2 linked regions of the Homo sapiens genome follow. The protein of the gene in region 1 purifies or fractionates together with the protein of each later gene. This does not show direct contact. Each region holds a gene or a part of one and is shown on either strand. Other genes may lie near its edges.

What was found. The genes of interacting proteins can lie anywhere in the genome.
Region 2: the proteins of ZNF44 (region 1) and RDH13 purify together in Homo sapiens (affinity purification with mass spectrometry; 2 studies listed by BioGRID and IntAct, with this or other methods). This does not show direct contact.

The regions. Positions count from the first base shown.
Region 1 is NC_000019.10:12,293,240-12,296,986, reverse strand, and holds the start of ZNF44 (zinc finger protein 44), read left to right. Parts: upstream 1-2,103; 5' UTR 2,104-2,292; coding exon 2,293-2,295; intron 2,296-2,374; exon of another isoform or gene 2,375-2,691; intron 2,692-3,611; coding exon of another isoform or gene 3,612-3,747. UniProt on the Homo sapiens protein: May be involved in transcriptional regulation.
Region 2 is NC_000019.10:55,061,185-55,064,931, reverse strand, and holds the start of RDH13 (retinol dehydrogenase 13 isoform 1 precursor), read left to right. Parts: upstream 1-1,783; 5' UTR 1,784-1,899; coding exon 1,900-1,964; intron 1,965-3,747. UniProt on the Homo sapiens protein: Retinol dehydrogenase with a clear preference for NADP. Oxidizes all-trans-retinol, but seems to reduce all-trans-retinal with much higher efficiency. Has no activity toward steroids.

The DNA.
Region 1 (3,747 bases):
TGTTTTTATTTTCTGGGATGAAAATGAATAGATCGCAAAAAAATTATATCAGTGAGAAAATTATGGCAGTGGAAGAGATCTGAGCCAACACCCGTTCTGCCCCGCCCCGCCCCCCGCCCCTGCCAACCCTCTGTCTTCTCTTTCCCTTAATCCTGGGCTCTTAGGCACAGCTAACTTTGGAAGATAGCTTAAATGATAATAAGCCTTCCCCAAAACTCAACTGCCTTTGTAAAACGAATGAATGGCCATCAGGCTGAGGGATGAAAGGAATCGGAATGCTGCTAAAGTGTAGACATAGATTGCCAGCTATTTCTGCAGATAACACCACTATTGTAGATTAGCATTTGTAGACGTATTTTCAGTTTTTGTTTGTTTGTTTGTTTTTTTTTTGCATGTCTGACACCACCTGCACCTGCCAACTCTGCTCCTGTGGCCCCAACCAGAAGTGATTCAGCATAACAGGATAGGTTTTTTTTTTTTTTGTCTTTTTTTTGTTTTTTTTTGAGACGGAGTTTCGCTCTTGTTGCCCAGGCTGGAGTGCAAAGGCACGATCTCGGCTTGGCGCGATCTCAGCTCACCGCAACCTCCACCTCCCGGGTTCAAGTGATTCTCCCGCCTTAGCCTCCCAGGTAGCTGGGATTACAGACATGTGCCACCACGCCCAGCTAATTTTGTATTTTTAGTAGAGACGAGCTTTCTCCATGTTGGTCAGGCTGGTCTCAAACTCCCGACCTCAGGTGATCCGCCCGCCTGGGCCTCCCAAAGTTCTGGGATTACAGGTGTGAGCCACCGGGCCCGGCCTCTTTTTTTCTTTTTTAAATATGTAGCAGTACAAGCCGCAGACAAGAACCCCTCAGACACCGAGTTGTGGAAGGAAAGGGCTTTATTCAGCTGGGCTGGGAGCATCGGCGGACTCACGTCTCCAAAAACCGAGCTCCCCGAGTGAGCAATTCTTGTCCCTTTTAAGGGCTTACAACTAGGAGTCCGCGTGAGAGGGTCGTGATTGATGGAGCAAACAGTGGGTACGTGACTGGGGGCTGCATGCACCGGTAACCAGAACTGAACAGAACAGGACAGGGATTTTCACAGTGCTTTTCCATACAATGTCTGGAATCATAGATAACACAGTTAGGTCAGAGGTTGATTTTTAACTACCCAGCCCAGGGCACAAGCCGGGTTATCTGCCTGTGGATTTCATTTCTGCCTTTTAGTTTTTACTTCTTCTTTGGAGGCAGAAATTGGGCATAAGACAATATGAGGGGTGGTCTCCTCCCTTATAGTATAGAGACGGAGTTTCACTCTATGTCCAGGCTGGTCTTGAACTACTGGCCTCAAGCGATCCTCCCACCTAGGCCTCCCAAAGTATTGGGATTACAGCGGTGAGCCACCACGCACTGCCAAGAGGACAGATTCCATCCCCAGTGATTTCATCCCCACCCCAACCAGTCAGTAGCAAGCCTAGCTACCTCCACCCTTTCTCCCAAACTGCCCTTGAAAAACCCCTACCAGAGGACCTTGGATGAGAATAATTTGAGTAGTAACTCCGTCTCTCACGTATCGTAGCTGGCCTAGTGTTTATTAAACTTTTTTTTTAACTGCAATACCGTGGTCTTTATTTGCGTAGCGCGCAGAAAGAACCCATCCAGCGCTTATAGTGGAAGAAAGGCTTGACCTTGCAGGCGACAGCCTCATCCCAAATTCCTGGTCCCTGGAGGACATCAGCACCACCCCCCCACCCACCCACCCCCTGTCCCCCGCTGCTACAGTGTGGCCTGTGTGGCCTCGGCTGCCCTCCTGCTCTGAGGCCAAGGGATGGCTCCACTGGACAGTGAGTCTGGGATTCCTTGCACACAATTGTTCAGGAGGAAGAAGCAAAAAGGGCCCACTGCGTACAGGTAGGAAATTCCGCTTTAAGGCAAACGTTTCCCGGGACGGGTCGGGTCACAACGCAGGGAGGAAGCCCGCCCTGCCAGGGGCCGGGTCTGGAACCTGTTCATCCGGCTGCACTCAGCACTGTGAGATCGCTTCTTCTGTCACTCAGTGCCCAGGAGGCGGGACCTGGAGGGCTACCCAATCAAAGTCGTGGGCGGGTTCCTGAGAATTGTCAATCAGGCGCGAGGCAGAGAGGAGGGTGTGACGTTCCAGGAGCTAGTGGCCTCTTCACCCTGGTGACCTCTGTTCCGTATTCTGTCACTGAGAGACGCCCTGGGACATCTGTGGTGGCTTTTGTCGCGCTGGGACCTACCCTGACTACGGGAGTTGGGAGGACCCGGGACACCGCACAGCCGGGAAATGGTGAGTGTGCGGGGCCCGGCGTCCTGAGGCAGGGCGAAGGGCTGGTCGGAACCAGTCGGAACCGGCTGTGGCGGGACCCGGGCCTCGCCGCAGCGTCTTTGGGGTCTGGGACCTGAGCGCCCCCTGCGCACCTCGGTCCTCGGTCCGTTTGGCCGCAGGGTGGGGCTGGGCCGGCAGCCGGGACCCCGGGCGTCCTGTCCCGTCCCTGAGCTGCGACTGCGGCCCCGGCCCCGGCGCCCCTCTCTGGGCAGCTCCGCGCCCTCAGCCCCGCTTCTCCCCAGATTGTGCGGCGGAACCAGTACAGGTTCGCAGCCCAAGTCACTGCACCCGGACGCCGAGGGCTGCAGCAGAAACGGTTTAATAGGAGAGGACACCCTAGATCCGCCTCCGTGAGAGGTTTGAGGATGGGGTGTTTAGGGGTCTGGACGGGGGTGGTTGGGATGTGGGGTCGCTGGTTGGTGGAGAAGTGAGGGGTGAATCTTGGGACTGGAGGTGAAGAAACCGCATTCTGCTGCTGAGTGGGCTTCCTTGTGGGGTCTTCAGCCTGCTTGGCGCCAGCCTTTCCGCTGGAATTCAAGATCTGAGAAAGAACTTAGACGACTCTTGAGCAACTCTCAGAGATCTTATCCCCAGGCCAATGGGGAAGCCGGCGGTCAGCGTCTGCTGTGACCTGACTCTCAGGGAGGCGGCTTCCTGTGAAGCAGCGGGGCTGAGGGCACCTGGTTAATATCTAACTGCAATCTCGCCTCCAGCCTGGCTCGCAGTTCCTGTGAGCCCGGTGAGGAGGCTGCACGGTGACGGTGGGAGGGTCACTAGGCACAAACCAGACTCGTGTGTGGGGTTTGTGTGTGGGAGGAGCTGTGGTCTCTGTGCTCTTCAGTCCTTTCTTTCCAAGGGCGACCATTTCTCCTCCGAGGCTTTCAAAGATATTGGCATCAGGGTCTTTGAGACCTGTCCCTTCATCCTAACTCCTCTTGGGGCTAACAGTAAATCTTTTGGTTTCCAGAGCCTTCCATATGCTAACTTCACTCCTCAATTCCCAGTAACGTTATGAACCCTTTGTCAGCAAGACGATATTTCAAATAGACACAGAATTTTGTCGTTTGTTTTCAGATAGCAATGTATGGCTCTTTTTAAACAGATTTATTTTGTTTTCCTTAACATTTCACATGTGAGGAAGAAGAGAATAACCACCTGACACTGCTGTAAAAAAAACCAAACCTTTGTGCCTCTTTTATCTCCCCTAGGCACAGATGCCTTCTCAGTATGTCCTTTACAGGGTGATGTGACCTCAGCCCACCCTGTATCTTTTCCAGGCCCTGTGTTATGGAACTTTCTGGGGCTACCCTAAGATGCTGGAAGCTGCCAATCTCATGGAGGGCCTAGTGGATATCGGCCCTTGGGTCACTCTTCCCAGAGGACAGCCTGAGGTGTTGGAGTGGGGCCTCCCAA
Region 2 (3,747 bases), about 43 Mb from region 1:
TATTAAAAAACAGCTTCCCGGCCGGGTGCGGTGGCTCATGCCTGTAATCCCAGCACTTTGGGTGGCCGAGGCAGGTGGATCACCTGAGGTCAGGAGTTTGAGACCAACCTGGCCAACATGGTGAAACCCCGTCTCTACTAAAAATACAAAAATTAGCCGGGTGTGGTGACACGTGCCTGTAGCCCCAGCTACTCGGGAGGCTGAGGCAGGAGAATCGCTTGAACCTAGGAGGCAGAGGTTGCAGTGAGCTGAGATCGCCCACTGCTCTCCAGCCTGGGTGACACAGTGAGACTGTCTCTCAAAAAACAAAACAAAACAAACAAACAAACAAAAACAAATCCTGTGACTTCCCAATCTCATCTCCAGCCCCCTGCAGCCACCACTCTGTTTTCTGTCTCTATGAATTTGACTCCTCCAAGTGCCTCTTATACAGCATTTGGCATTGTGTAACTGGTTTAATACGTTTGAGATGGTGAGAGCTTAAGGTCTACAGGCCTAAGGTTTTTTTTTTTTTGACAGAATTTCACTCTGTCGCCAGGCTGGAATGCAGTAGGGCAATCTCGGCTCACTGCAACCTCCACCTCCCGAGTTCAAGTGATGCTCCTGCTTCGGCCTCCTGAGTAGCTGGGACTACAGGTGAGTGCCACCACATCCAGCTAATTTTTGTATTTTTAGTAGAGACAGGGTTTCACCATGTTGGCCAGGCTGGTATCAATCTCCTGACCTCGTGATCCATCTGTCTCGGCCTCCCAAAGTGCTGGGATTACAGGCGTGAGCCACCGTGCCCGGCCATTGACTAAGGTCTTAAAATAGCTCTTCCTGCCTGTATAATCTCCATTATGGCAGGGCTCATATAAGAAGATGACAGTTCATCTGATGAGGAAGAAAACTTACTCCTAGTTAGATTGGGTTGAATTCTTCCCTGTTTCCAGCGGTGTCTGCTCCTGGCACCTCAGGCACAGTCAGGGGTAGGAGGTGGTGATCAGATACACTCGCTGTGAGCAGTGCAAGGGGAAGCAGGTGCCCAGAGGTGCATCCCGGTTTGGTGGGGGTGACAAACATGGACAGGTAAGTGCAGGAGTGTGTGCAATACTCAATCTAAGAAAGGTAGTTCAGGCAGAGTTCAGGGAAGATATCTCTGTGCAGGGCCAGACATGGGGATGAGATTCTGATAATTTGGGAATGAATCAGGCCCCCAGCCCCTCCTCCCTCAGACTCAGCAGTCCAGGCACCCGGCCCTCCTCCCTCGGACCCAGAAGTCCATGCTCCCAGCCCCTCCTCCCTTGGACCCAGGAGTCCAGGCCCCCAGCCCCTCCTCCCTCAGACCCAGGAGTCCAGGCCCCCAGCCGCCTTCTCCTGCAGGACCCCAGGAGCTTGGGTACCCACAGGCTACTAGATCCTTGTTTCTGTGCATGGAAATTCTCAAATTATCTCCAAAAGTCTATGAAGAAGGTAAACACACATTTCCAGATGAGGGAATAGGCTGATATAGTTGAAAGACACACAGAGGGTCACAGTCTGGAATTGACAGTGGTGGGATTCGAACCTATTTCACTCCAGAACTGCGTAGCGCCTTATACGCTGCGGCAAGTGTGACGTCATTCGAACAAACCATAGGCCCCGCCCCCGGACTAGCCACGCCCACAGGCTCCTGAAACCACCAATCCCAGCTGTGACAGCGCTCAGGACCGATGCTCATAGGTCCCGTCCCTAGGATCCCCGCCCCCTCCGCCCGCGCCCCGCCCCTCGCAGCCCAGTTCCGGACGCGGGCCCAGCCGCGCCTGCGCCTCCGCTCGCCTGTGGCTGCGTCGCGCGCTCTTCCTCGGAGCTACCCAGGCGGCTGGTGTGCAGCAAGCTCCGCGCCGACCCCTGACGCCTGACGCCTGTCCCCGGCCCGGCATGAGCCGCTACCTGCTGCCGCTGTCGGCGCTGGGCACGGTAGCAGGCGCCGCCGTGCTGCTCAAGTGAGTACATTCTAGCCCCGCGTGCGCGGTCAAGGCGGGCCCCCAGCGCAGGGGCCGGGAAGGCGGCGGAGACCCCCGCCCCTCGCACCCGGGTCCAGGCCCCGTAGCTCCCGACCCGCAGTGCCCGCCCGGAGTGGGGCAAACCTGCGCTCTGGCCGGCCAGGTCACCGGCCCAAGGTCACTCGGAGGGAAGGGCGAGCCTGGGCCCTTGTAAATGTTGCTTTCCTTCCAGACTTTTAAACTCTTTATTTTGTTGTTTTGTATTATTTATTTGTTCGTTTATTTTTAAAGGCAGAATCTGGCTCTGTCGCCCAGGCTGGAGTGCAGTGGCGCGATCTTGGCTCACTGCAGCCTTGACCTCCTGGGCTCAGGTGATCCTCCCACCTTGGCGTCCCCAGGAGCTGAGATCACACGTGCGCCACCACGCCCGGCTAATTTTTGTATTTTTCGCAGAGACGGGGTTTTGCCATGTTGGCCAGGCTGGTCTCAAACACCTGCCCTCAGGTGATCCGCCTGCCTCGGCCTCCAAAGTGCTGGGATTACAGACGTGAGCCACCTCGCCCAGCCTACTTAATTTAAACTTTCTTAAAAATTAGCCTCTGTGGCTGGTGGCCACTGTATTGCATGGTGCCCTTCTCTCCTGTGGGTGCAGTGCTGTTTACCTGCTCAGCCTCCTGTTGCTGGACACTATCTTGTTGCCAGCGTTAGCCTCTGTGGGACATGGGTGTGGTGGGCAGAGTCGTGACTCCGTAGAGGGGTCCACGTCCTAATCCTCGGAAGGTGTGACGACATTACCTCACGTGTCAGAGGTTCTCGCTGATGTGTTAAGTGAAGCATCTTTTTTTTTTTTGAGACAGAGTTTCGCTGTTGTTGCCCAGGCTGGAGTGCAATGGCACGACCTCGGCTCACCACAACCTCCACCTCCCGGGTTCAAGCGATTGTCCGGCCTCAGCCTCCTGAGTAGCTGGGATTACAGGCATGTGCCACCACGCCTGTCTAATTTTGTATTTTTAGTAGAGACGAGGTTTCTCCATGTTGGTCAGGCTGGTCTTGAGCTCCCGACCAAAGGGGATCTGGCCACCTTGGCCTCCCAAAGTGCTGGGGTTACAGGCGTGAGCCACCGTGCCCGGCCAAGTGAAGGATCTTATGATTATCATGTAGTCTTTTTTTTTTTTTGGAGACAGGGTCTCTCTGTCACCCAGGCTGGAGTGCAGTCATGCTGTCACAGCTCACTGCAGCCTCACCCTCCCTGGGCTCAGGTGGTCCTCCCACTTCAGCCTCCCGAGTAGCTGACTCTACAGGCGTGCACCACCAAGCCCTGCTAATTTTTGTATTTTTAGTAGAGATGGGGTGTCAGCATGTTGGCCATGGCTGGTCTCGAACTCCTGACCTCAAGTGATCCTCCTGTCTTGGCCTCCCAAAGTGCTGGGATTACAGGTGTGAGGCACTGTGCCGGTCCTGCCTTGTAGTCTTATAGGGTCCTTATAAGAGGGAGCAGGAGGCTCAGTCAGAGGGGAGATGGAAGATAGAAGGAGAGGTTGTTGGGTGTGGTGGCTCACGCCTGTAATCGCAGCACTTTGGGAGGCCAAGGCAGGCGGATCACAAGGTCAGGAGTTCGAGACCAGCCTGACCAACGTGGTAAAACTCTGTCTCTACTAAAAATACAAAAGAAATTAGCCAGGTGTGGTGGCATGTGCCTGTAATCCCAGCCACTCAGGAGGCTAAGGCAGGAGAATCGCTTGAACCTGTGAGGCGAAGGTTACAGTGAGCTGAGATTGAGCCA